Regions from separate parts of the Homo sapiens genome. Here region 1 is linked to region 2. A link means that fine-mapping ties the variant in region 2 to the expression of a gene that starts in the linked region. Tissue or cell type: whole blood. Region 2 holds a variant in brackets; the other region holds the start of a gene. All regions are shown on one strand. Distances are from middle to middle.

Region 1 (5,000 bases), 1.0 Mb after region 2:
TATAGACCCAGGGGTAGGTGTAGGTCAGCTGCTTGCCTGGAGGACAAGGGGAGGAGGAAATGCAAGATCGTTCCAGGTTCTGGTCAGTAAACCCAGGACTCATCCTGTGTCCCTGACTCGACTTACCCATCTTCGAGAACTGAGCGAAGGGAAAAGACACACAGAGCAGGGTCTGCCCGTAGGTACAGGCGCTATGAGGCCAGCTGTATGCAGCAGAGGAGGCCGGTGGAGGGAAGTTAGGTACACTGTGGACCAGCCAGAAGCCCCCATCGTGGTCAAGGAGCAGGACACCTGGACCAAAAGAAGGCATTAGGGGAGGTCGGGCGCAGTGGCTCACGCCTGTAATCCCAGCACTTTGGGAGACCGAGACACACAGATCACCTGAGGTCAGGAGTTAGAAATCAGCCTGGCCAACATGGCGAAACCCCATCTCTACTAAAAATACAAAAATTAGCTGAGCGTGGTGGTGGACGCCTGTAATCCCAGCTACTCAGGAGGCTGAGGCAGGAGAATCGCTTGAACCCAGGAGGTGGAGGTTGCAGTGAGCTGAGATCCACCACTGCACTCCAGCCTGGGCCACAGAGCAAAATTTCATCTCAAACATAAGTAAGTAAGTAAGTAAATAAATAAATAAATAAATAAATAAATAAAAATTTAAAAAAAGAAGGCAGGCCCCACGCAGTGTAATCCCAGCACTTTGGGAAGCCGAGGAGGGCGGATCACCTGAGGTCGGGAGTTCAAGACCAGCCTGGCCAACATGGAGAAACCTCATCACTACTAAAAATACAACATTAGCCGGGCATGGTGGTGCATGCCTGTAATCCCAGCTACTCGGGAGGCTGATGCAGGAGAATCACTTGAACCCAGGAGGCGGAGGTTGCAGTGAGCCGAGATTGCACCATTGCACTCCAGCCTGGGTAGCAAGAGCAAAACTCCTTCTCAAAAAAAAAAAAAAAAAAAAGGCAATTAGAGGGTATTGCTCCAGGCCTCCCAGCAAGCTCATCTGCAATCAGGAACACCCTCAGTTTGCAGCGGGGCTTAGAGAGGGTGCCAGCAGTGTTAGAACCACAGCTGAGCTCAGTTTTTGCAGGCATAAATTCTTATAGTCCAGAATAACGCCAAGAGTAATGTAAGGTAGGGAAACAGGCCAGGTGTGGCGGCTCATGCCGGTAATCGCAGCACATTAAGAGGCCAAGGTGGGTGGATTGCTTGAACCAGGACTTAGAGACCAGCCTAGGCAACATGGCAAAAGCCCACTCTACAAAAATACAAAAAGTAGGCCAGGTGTGGTGGCTCACGCCTGTAATCCCAGCACTTTGGGAGGCCAAGGCAGGTGGATCACCTGAGGTCAGGAGTTCAATATCAGCCTGTCCAACCTGGTAAAACCCCATCTCTACTAAAACATACAACATTTAGCTGGGCATGGTGGCGCACACCTGTAATCCCAGCTACTCCAGAGGCTGAGGCAGAAGAATCGCTTGAACTGGGGAGATGGAGATTGCAGTGAGCTGAGATTGCACCACCGAACTCCAGCCTGGGTGATGGAGAGAGAGTGCCGCAAAAAAAAAAAAAAAAAAAAAAAGCCAGGCGTGGTGGGGGGTACCGGCAGGCCCAGTACTTGGGAGGCTGAGGTAGGAGGATCACCTGAGCCCTGGGAGGTCAAGGCTGCAGTGAGCTGTGATACTGCACTCCAGCCTAGGTGACTGGGTGAGACCTTGTCTAAAAGAAAATAAAATAGGGGAAATAGATGCCCAAGGTCTGACAGGGGAGATCTCCCACCCCACTATGGAGGTCAGGGGTTAGCTTGGAAAAATGCATAGGAACTCGGCTGGGCAGGGTGGCTCATTCCTGTAATCCCAGCACTTTGGGAGGCCAAGGCGGGTAGATCACTTGAGGTAGAAACCAGGAGTTCGAGACCAGCCTGGCCAACATGGTGAAACCTCGTCTGTACTAAAAATATGAAAATTAGCCTGGTGTGATGGTGCGCCTTTAATACCAGCTACTTGGGAGGCTGAGACAGGAGAATTGCTTCAACCCCAGAGGCAGAGATTGCAGTGAGCCAAGATTGTGCCACTGCACTCCAGCTTGGGTGACAGAGCGAACTCCCACCGTCTCAAAAACAAAGAAAAAAAAAAGTTGGGGGGAATAGATGCCCAGGGTCTGACAGTGCAGATCTCCCCGACCACCCCATGCACGTCAGGGGTTACCTTGGAAAAATGGGACCCGAGTCTCTCCCCAGCCCCCAATCCAGGCCTCACCCTTCGTGTGCCCACGCATGGAAGAGTCCTGAGCCTTGCTGGGTTGAGGCGGTTGGTCATTGTAGAGCAGGAAGGCGAGCTGCGGGCGGATAAACGGAGGCAACGTGAAATTCCTCCCAGGCAGGGCAGCCCTAGAGTTTCGCCCCTAGTTGGCCCGGGGCCCCCTTCACCTGGCTGGTGTTGCTCCGGTACAGCGGCTGCAGGCTTCGGCCCACGGCCCCCTCCGGGCTGTTGATGAGTGCCCTGCCGTCCCGCCAGCCTCCGGAGCTCTCGTCCAGATACTTGTACTGCAGCCCTCTCTGCGCCGCCTCCCCGGACCCTCTAAGAGCTGGCAGCTTGTAGACCACGAACCTGGAGGTCGGAGAATGCACAGAAATAGGAGAGAGGGAAGAGAAGGCACCCCAGGGTTCCCCGAGGAGGTAGCCATCCCGGTTGAGTGACCGCAGCCGGACCCCGGGGCGATGGTAGGCCCCCCGCTGCGCACTCACCAGTCTACAGGCTGCCCGGAGTCCCCGTAGCAGGTCAGGGCCCCGGCGGGGACGCACAGCAGCGCTGCCAGCAGCAGCGGGATCATAGCTGCTATGGGGCTGAGATCCAGGAATCTGTGTCGGGACTGCGGGGCGCTGGGTTACATCAGAGGCCAGGACTGGCACCTGGCGCCTTTCACTTCCCTAAACTTGCCTGGGAACCGGGGCGGGGACATCACGAGGGTACAGACTCCTCCCCCGAGACGCGATGCTGCGTTTTGGAGAGGCAAAAGGCAACGCTGAGTCTGCCCAGACCACGCCCACGACGGGCCCGGCGCTCCAGCGTCTCCTGGAGCCTGGCCACCGTTCCTTTTCGTGGTAGCTAATCCCAGCCCACGCTCTTCTGTCTGACCCAACTCCCGCCCGGGTTTCTGGATCAGGCACAAGTTTGTATTTTATTTTTTATTCCAGCCCTACAACCTGGGTCCAACTCTTGGGACCTTTGTTCTTCCTCTTTTTTTTTTTTTTTTTTTTTTTTTTTTTTTGAGACGGAGTTTCACTCTTGTCGCCCAGGCTGGAGTGCAATGGCACGATCTCGGTTCACTGCAACCTCCGCCTTCCTGATTAAAGCGATTATCCTGCCTCAGCCTCCCGAGTAGCTGGGATTACAGGCGCCCGACACCACGCCCGGCTAATTTTTGTAGTTTTAGTAGAGACGGGGTTTTTCCATGTTGACTAGGCTGGTCTCGAACTCCTGACCTCGTGATCCACCAGCCTCGGCCCCCGAAAGTGCCAAGATTGCAGAAGTGAGCCACTGCGCCCCTTAAGAAGCATTTGTGTTCCAGTGTATCTTCCCCTTTTTCTTTCTTTTTTTTTTTCCTTCCTTTTTTTTTTTTTTTTTTCCCGGACAATATCTCGCTCTGTTGCCCAGGCCGGAGTGCAGTGGCGCAATCTTGGCTCACTGCAACCTCTGCCTCCCCAGCTCAAGTGATCCTCTCACCTCAGCCTCCCGAGTAGCTGGGATCACGGGCACATGCCACTATGCCCAGCTAATTTTTGTAGTTTTTTTTTTGAAACACGGTTTCACCATGTGGCTCAGGCTGAACTCCTGAGCTCAAGGGATCCACCTGTCTTGCCTCCCAAAGTGCTGGGATTACAGGCATGTAATCCACGCCACCCAGACTCTCCTTTTTCATTCTGCACGTTTTCTCCAGGATCCCCTGAGCTAGCAAAGAGGTGACTGTATGTTTGTTTTTTGTCGTTTTGAGACAGGATAATGGTTTCTCACCCAGGCTAGAATGCAGTGACTCCATCACAGTTCACTGCAGCCTCAACCTACTGGGCTCAAGAGATCTTCCCAGGTAGCTGGTACTACAGGCCTGTGCCACCACACCCAGATAATTGTTCATTGCAGAGATGAGGGTCTCACTATGTTGCCCAGGCTGCTCTGGAACTCCGGGGTTCAAGTGATTCTCCCACCTCAGCCTCAAAGGATCATGGCAGGGCAAAGGGCTATGGGAATCTGAGTACTGGCTTGAAACTGCCTTTGCAAAAATTATGACAGAAAATTATGTCAGTGAAAGAGCTCTGACCTAACCAACTCCATCTTGCCTTTAATCTCCAAACTGCCCTTGCTTGGTCATTCCTGGAGTGGGGTCAAGCTAACTTTTTTTTTTTTTTTGACACGTTGTCTCACTCTGTCGCCCAGGCTGGAGTCCAGTGGTGTGATCTCAGCTCACTGCAACATCCGCCTCCTAGGTTCAAGCAATCCTCCTGCCTCAGCTTCCTGAGTAGCTGGGATTACAGGCATGCGCCACATGCCCAGCTAATTTTTGTATTTTTGGTAGAGACTGGGTTTCACCATTTTTGGTAGAGATGGGGTTTCACCTTGGGGCTCAGGCTGGTGTCGAACTCCTGGGCTCAAGTGATCTGCCCGCCTCAGCCTGCCAAATTGCTGGGATTAAAGAGGGAGCCACCATGCCTGGCCCCAAGCTAATTTTGGGAGGAATTTAGTTTATAGCTTAAATGATAATAGCCCTTCCCCAAACTAAACTGCCTTTGTAGAAATAATGAAAGGGCACTAGGTTAGGAGGATGAGAGGAGCCTGAATTCTGCTAAACTGTAGGTGTAGTAGTTAAATTATGACCAGCCATTTTTCCGGCCGGGTGCGGTGCCTCACGCCTGTAATCCCAGCACTTTGAGAGGCCGAGGCTGGCAGATTACCTGAGGTCAGGATTTCGAAACCAGCCTGGCCAGCATTTCGAAACCCCATCTC
Region 2 (7,432 bases):
AAGGGGGCGAGCTTGCCAGTGACCCTAATCCCTCTCCTCATCGATGACTTCTTTGTCATCAGAGCCTTCCTCTTCATAAATTCCCACGGAATCCAAGTTTTCACGTCCCAATCGGGCTTAGTTATGATAGCCACAGGCCCACACCAGCTGCCACAGCACCCCTGTCCCATGGAAACCGCCTGACTCTCTTCTCCCCAAGCGTCCTGTCCCAGGAGCCCCCATCATCTCTGCTCCCCCGGGCTCCAGGCCCTAGAGCCGCGCTGCTGCAGAGCCCGGTTCCCAGGGCTGCTCCCTCCATATATCCACATTCATCTCCAGCTCTCCACCCTCTCTCCAACCAGCCAGGCCCGGAGGTACTGCAGTGTCACTGAACGTGCGTCCCTCAGCTGCCACCTCCACCACGATCTGGAAATCTTTTAAATGCACTTAAGTTATCTTAGAATTTTCCTTCCCCACTTTATACATAAACATAGGAGGAGAGCAGGGACTCTGCTGGTGTCTTATTCACACAATGGGATTGAGGGTGTTTGTGTCATGGAACTGATCAATGGGGTGAGAAGTAGCTGAATAACCTGCAGGGGGCAGCAGAGCCCGAGGCCGGTGACTCAACGCTGAGGCCAGTGTGGAGCCTGCAAAGGAAGGGAAAGGAGCCTTTCCTGGGGGCTTCCGGGCAGCCCGCCCTCCCCTACAGGTGGCCTCCAATTGCTCAGAGCAGCTCCAGAAGGAGTGCGGATTCCGAGAAGCTGAAGAGCCCTGGAAAGCAGAAGACCCACATGCACACGTATGTGTGGGGGTTCTGTCCTTTCTGGTGTTGTACCTCTGGAGCCTGGGGCTGTCTTCTGGGCAGGGTTTGGGGTTTGACATGCATGGGGCCACTGGGGTCAGATTTGTAAGATACAGTGAATTTCTTTAAGTTTTTCTTTAAAGATTTAGCCTGCTAACTTCCTCGTCTTTTGTTCTCAAACTCAACTTTCCTGTTCCTCCTTGCCCCTAGTTACTTTAAAACAGCCTACCCCGTTCCCATCAGCTCTAATCAATAACTCACATCTGTTCCCTTGGTTACCTGTACCCATTGTTCCCCCAAAACTGCACATCTCACATGCTCCACCTCTGTACCTCACATCCCCCTCCCCTTCTATATTTAGAAAAATATGTACAAGCAGCCAATCGGGTCAGCTCAGACTGTGCGGTCCGACCCCAGCCCATGGGGGAGTAACACAGAGATAGGGACCGCATTAAGGATAAAAACCTCCTGGTCTCCTTTGTTCTCTGTGCTCTTGTGATCTTGATTGACGTGAGTGGCACCCTTCTGCAGTAGTAAATTGCCTTGCTGAGAGAATTAAAATTTTGCCTGAGTGCTGGTTTTACTTCACGGCACCAAGCTTTTATTCCGGGAGCATTTTATATCCAACAATTCTAGGGGATCGTCCGAGATCCCCATGCTCCTTTTGGAAGAGTTCTTCAGTCACCCTACCCTGGGGAGACGCGTCCCACTGCCCCATTGCGGTGGCCTCAGGGACAGGAGATCGAGACCCACCCATTTTGACGAATAAACCCGGACTCTCAGCAACGCGGGGAAGAGAGGCTTGCAATACCGCAGCGACCAGGTAAACTCTGTGCACAGACCAAGGTGGGAAACGTTGCAGGGGCAACAAAGTAATTCTTTGGTAGTCGGAGGGGTGTGTCAGGGCATTCTGGGGGTTGAAAGTGCATGAATGGTAACAAGCACTACTGCTGTGCGGAGCGAGTGAGTCCAATCTGCGGTTCTGTGGTCACCTCACACGGCTTAGGGCAGCCCTGCGGGGGTCCTGTCACAGGTTTATACGGACCTGCCATCAATGCTAAGAGGAACCTGAAACAAACCTGCGAGGGAAGCGGCCAGAGTGGATGAAGCGAAAGAAGGGTGCAAGGAACCTCCAGCAGGTGGAGCTAAAGGATAGTGGAATTGAGCCTTAGCCACACTTCCAGTGAGGGATAGGCAAAAGACCTCCTAATATGAGGGGTTGAGCCACAAGGAACCCCCCAAATAGGCAAGAGATCCTTAATTTGAGAGGCTGAGCCACAAGGAACCCCCAAAATAGGCAAGAGATCCTTAATATGAGGGGTTGAGCCACAGCAAGCCCCCCTAGGCAAGAGATTCCTATCACGAGGGATTGAGCCTAGCCAGGACCCAGTATAGGAAATATTACAAGCAAAAAAGACAAAGTTAGCAACAAAGATATCCCCCCTAATAGTCCCCTAGGTCTCATGTTAAAACATTAGAAAGATAATGAAAAGACTAAACATAAGAAAAAGCAATTAGTGATAAAATATTGCTGTTCCATTTAGACTCAAGAACGAATCCTTGAACCCTTAGTTTTCTGGCCAGAATTTAAGTCGAATGAGGGATGGATTTGTGAACTTCTAATAGAAAATGTTGCTAGTAGAAGACCTGCCTCCTGAGAAGAAACAAATTATGCCCTATGTTAGTTGCAAGGAGTTGTCCTTTCCCCTCCTCCAAGGATTGAAAGGAGCAAGTCAAAAACTAATATTTGGAGGAAAATGAGTTGTACATGTGCCCTATTAAGATAGAACCATCTTTAATGAAAAAGACAGTGAAGGAAGGGGCTTGGGGGATCCTAGCAAAAAGAACAACTCGCAAGATCCCCTAGACCATTCCCCACCTAATACCCAACCCTTCCCCTCAGGCATCGCCCAGTAAGTCTGTTCTTCCCCAGCCTAAGTCCCTCTCCCCTAAAGAACTCCAAGCTCCTAATTCACCAGATGGCTTTTGCCAGGCTAGCAACATGAAGGATCTGCCGCAACATGTTGTCAGCGTTGTCTGGCCCATAGTGCACCCCTGCAGCGGCAAAGCCCATGCTCCTGCCCACTGGCTGGTCCAAGGTCCTGGCACTGTATTGACGGCAGCTCTGCATGACATGCGAGCCAGGCCCCAGCCTATGCCCCATGCAAACTACATTATAGGATATCTGCCTTACTTTGCTGAGGCTAAGTAATACGGGGCTTCAGCGATGGCTCCAAGCAGCCTGGCATCCCCGCAGCTAAGTTTCCTGAGCAAGAAGTAGATAATCTTTCAGCGGATATATCCACTAGCATTTATTATAGTCAGGCCAGTGTTAAAAGTGAAAATATCCACCAGAAAAGAACTCTGATTCTTTAAAGTCACCTATGTTAAAATGTACCACCAAAAAAGAATTACATGTGTATAAATATGAGGCTATTCTGTTAAAAATGATAGTTTAATGTTACTAGTAATTTGCTTAACCTAACAAGTTTCTTAACGAAAGATCCAAATCTAAAAAGGAAGCACACATGTTTAGATTTAACTGATTACCATACAAATGTCCGGCCAAACTTAAGAGAAACCCCCTTCAAAAATGATTAAAGGAAAAAGGATTCAACAGATGTTCAATAATAAATAGAGAAGTTCCTAGAGAAATAAAATTTAAAAATTGTTTAATAGTTTACCCAAATTTGTAAGCTGTTTGCACTTAGTCAAGCTTTAAAGTAACTGCAAAGGAACCATCTATACTAATCTATATTGATTCTAAATACACCTTTATCGTGGCTCATACATTTAGAAAATTTCAGACAATAATAAAGGTCAAAGCCTTGTTCATGAAGAGTTAATAACCCAAGTGTTAAATAACCTTCAGTTACCAGAAAAAAAAAAAAAGCTATTTTCCACGTCCCCAGGCACCAAAAATCCTATCTTTCAAGAGTTAAGAAAATAACCTAGCAAATCAGATAATCCGAACCAGCTGCCGTTTCTCCTGTAGGCACTGAAGGGAATTCAAATGTTATTTAAACCTCTTATGAAAGAAGTCCTATCCCACCTAAATTAGAGGACCCATTAAAGACCTCAAGCTATGTATAGCACAGTTAAAGTTTATATGTGTATGAAAATGTACATCCTTAGCCAAACAAGTCTAGAAACTTAGTTGCCATAACTCAAATGTCTTCTGTCTTCCTATTAATCCAAACTACCTCTCAAAGCAATCCACTGCCAACATTCCTACATACTTGGTTTATCTTCCACTTTCTCTTCCCTCAAAACTCACAATTTTCCAGTACAGGTGCGGCTCCTGGAGTTCCCAGTGCGTCAACACCGGCCTGAGGAGCTGGCCTAGTACTTCCCACCATTGAAACTGCAGTCTGGACAGCAGAGAAAGGATAGACCCATCACACCCGAGTCAAGAAAGCACCGCCACCCCCAAAGTCGTAGGCCATTATTCCAGGGGAAAACCCCCTCAAACTAAAGCTAAGAAAAATTTAACCTCTTACATCTATTCTATTACTCTTTCTTCTTTTCCCCTTCCAATGCTGACCACCTTGTCATTAATGTAACTCAATCAAACTCACCCCAAGTTATCACGTTTAATGCTATGTCTAGTCATACCCTGTAAAGATCTCCAAAGTCAAAGACAAGTCTCAGCCTCAGAAAAGTATCTCTGCCCCTTTAAGGTGAAAG[G/GC]CCCCCCCTACCAAGACTCTTGTTCCTTAACAAATATAAGAAAACAAGTCTGTCATAGCTAGAATGATGTCCTATGGACAACCAAATGTCAAGGCTAGACCTCATCAGCAGGTGGCTGTATATCCTTAAAACCATACATTCATTTCACTAAAAAAAGCACCTCCCCAATTGCCAGTATAATCAATGTAATCCCATACAAATTTCCACCTCTACTGACCCTAAACCTACTTTAAGTCACTTCTATGGAACAGGAGCCAACTTGGCCAGCACAGACCTCATAAGATCTTTCGAAATGCGTTTTATTAATCCTTCATTCTCTTCACCCCCTTCCTTCTCTTCTCCTTCTAAGCTTTCTTCTAATCAGACTGCCACCTGTTTTCTACCTAATGATACTACTAAAGTAAATATTGTAGAAGTAAAAGATTTAAGACAAACCCTAGCAATTAAAACAGGATATCAAGATGTAAATACCTGGTTGGAATGGATTCAATATTCCGTCCGCACATTGAACAAAAGCAATTGTTACGCTTGTATGCATGGCAGACTAGAGGCCCAGACTGTTTCCTTTCCACTAGGATAGCCCTTCAGCCGACCAGGCATAGGCTGTATGGTAGCTCTTTTCCAAAATTCCACAGCCTGGGGCAACAAATCATGCCAAGCTCTCTCTCTGCTATATCCCGAAGTCCAACAACCTGCAGGCCAGCCCCCAAAGGCCATTCAGCTTCCTTCTCCTGACGTCAATTTCACCTCATGTCTCTCACGACGAGGGGAGAATCTGGCGTTCCTTAGAAGCTTAACAAGATGCAATAAGCTTAAGCCCTTCCAAAAACTTACCCATCAGTCTGCCCTTAGTCATCCTCAAGCAGATGTATGGTGGTATTGTAGTGGACCTTTACTGGATACTCTGCCAAGTAACTGGAGCGGCACTTGCGCTCTTGTCCAATTGGCGATCCCTTTCACACTGGCATTTCATCAACCAAAAAAAAAGAAAAGCCACAACACCAAAAAATAAGAGAAGCCCCTTATAAGTCTTTTGACTCTCAAGTTTACATAAAGGCCATTAGAGTCCCATGGGGAGTGCCTAACAAGTTCAAAACCTGAGACCAAATAACTGCAAGATTTAAACCCATATTTCCCCGAATAACTATTAATAAAAATGTAGCTTCGATAAATTACATCTATTATAATTAGCAGCAGTTTATGAATTACACCAAGGATCTTATCAAAAAACAGCTGACCAGTTAAGGCCTACTAGCCAAATAGCTTAAGAAAACAGAATCACTTGACTGGGCGCGGTGGCTCATGCCTGTAATCCCAGCACTTTGGGAGGCCAAGGTGGGCGGATCACAAGGTCAGGAGATCGAGACCATCCTGGCTAACATGGTGAAACCCCCGTCTCTACTAAAAAATACAAAAAAAGTATCCGGGCGTAGTGGCGGGCACCTGTAGTCCCAGCTACTGGGGAGGCTGAGGCAGGAGAATGGCGTGAACCCGGGAGGCAGAGCTTGCAGTGAGACAATATGGTGCCACTGCACTCCAGCCTGGGCCACGAAGTGAGACTCCATCTCAAAAAATAAAAACCAGAATGGCTCCAGACATGTTATTAGCCAAAAAAGGTGGAGTTTGTGTTATGATTAAAACCCAGTGTTGTACCTTCATTCCAAACAACACTGCCCCCAGTGAGAGCATAACAAAGGCCTTGCAAAGACTTACCGCTTTATCCAATGAATTAGCTAAAATTTCTGGAGTCAATGACCCTATTTCAAGATGGCTAGGAAAGTAGTTCAGTCAATAAAGAATCATAGCCTCAATACTTATTTCTTTTACAGTCGTAACAGGTGTACTTATTCTTGTTAGGCGTTGTGTCATACCATGCATCCGTAGGCTAATACAAAGGATTGTACGAACAGCATTTACTGAAACCTCCCTTAGTTCTCCTCCACCTTATTCAAGTAAGCTTTTCCTTTTAAAAGATCAAATCAAACAGCAAAGCCAAAACACGTTAAAAAAGTTTAAAGAGAAAAAATCATAAGAAAATTAAAAGGGAGGAATTGTAACATACAGTAAATTTCTCTGAGTTTCTTTTTTTTTTTTTTTTTGAGACGGAGTCTCACTCTGTCACCCAGGCTGGAGTGCAGTGGCGTGATCTCGGCTCACTGCAAGCTCTGCCTCCTGGGTTCATGCCATTCTCCTGCCTCAGCCTCCCGAGTAGCTGGGACTACAGGCGCCCACCACCACGACTGGCTAATTTTTCGTATTTTTTAGTAGAGACGGGGTTTCACCATGTTAGCCAGGATGGTCTCGATCTCCTGACCTCGTGATCTACCCGCCTCAGCCTCCCAAAGTGCTGCGATTACAGGCGTGAGCCACCGCGCCTGGCCTCTCTGAGTTTCTCTTCAAAGACTTAGCCTGCTAACTTCCTTGTCTTTTGTTCTCCAGCTCAACTTTCCTGTTCCTCCTTGCCCCTAGTTACTGTAAAACAGCCTACCCCCTTCCCGTCAGCTCTAATCAATAACTCACATCTGTTCCCTTGGTTACCTGTACCCATTGTTCCCCCGAAACTGCACGTCTCACACGCTCCATCTCTGTACCTCACGTTCCCCTCTCCTTCTATATTTAGAAAAATACGTACAAGTAGCCAGTCGGGTCAGCTCAGATTGTGTGGTCGAACCCCAGCCCATGAAGGAGTGACACAGAGATAGGGACCGCATTAAGGATAAAAAAACCCCCGGTGACCTTTGTTCTCTGTGCTCTTGTGATCTTGATTGACACAAGTGGCACACTTCTGCAGAAGTAAATTGCCTTGCTAAACAAATGAAACTTTCCCCTAAGTGCTAGTTTTACTTCGTGGGACCAAGAATTTATTCCTAAAGCATTTTATATCCGACAGAGATATTCATATATATAAAGAAAATGTGGGCCAGGCGCGGTGGCTCACGCCTGTAATCCCAGCACTTTGGG

What was found. PIP is the estimated chance that this variant, and not a neighbour inherited with it, causes the effect.
Region 1: DNASE2 starts here. The variant in region 2 is fine-mapped to the expression of DNASE2 in whole blood (INTERVAL, PIP above 0.99).

Annotation. Positions count from the first base shown.
Region 1 is chr19:12,878,544-12,883,543 of GRCh38, forward strand. It overlaps DNASE2 (deoxyribonuclease 2, lysosomal), which reads right to left and starts at 2,906. Exons shown (of 6, transcript NM_001375.3): 1 at 2,747-2,906; 2 at 2,429-2,609; 3 at 2,259-2,337; 4 at 127-291; 5 at 1-36. The coding sequence starts at 2,832. RefSeq lists enhancers at 2,437-3,064, 2,724-2,833 and cis regulatory regions at 2,728-3,288, 4,028-4,528.
Region 2 is chr19:11,879,475-11,886,906 of GRCh38, forward strand. No RefSeq gene overlaps it. Among named protein-coding and RNA genes, the nearest start is that of ZNF69, 4.6 kb to the right of the region's middle. RefSeq lists an enhancer at 1,847-2,026. The variant G/GC (reference allele first, on the strand shown) is at 4,472.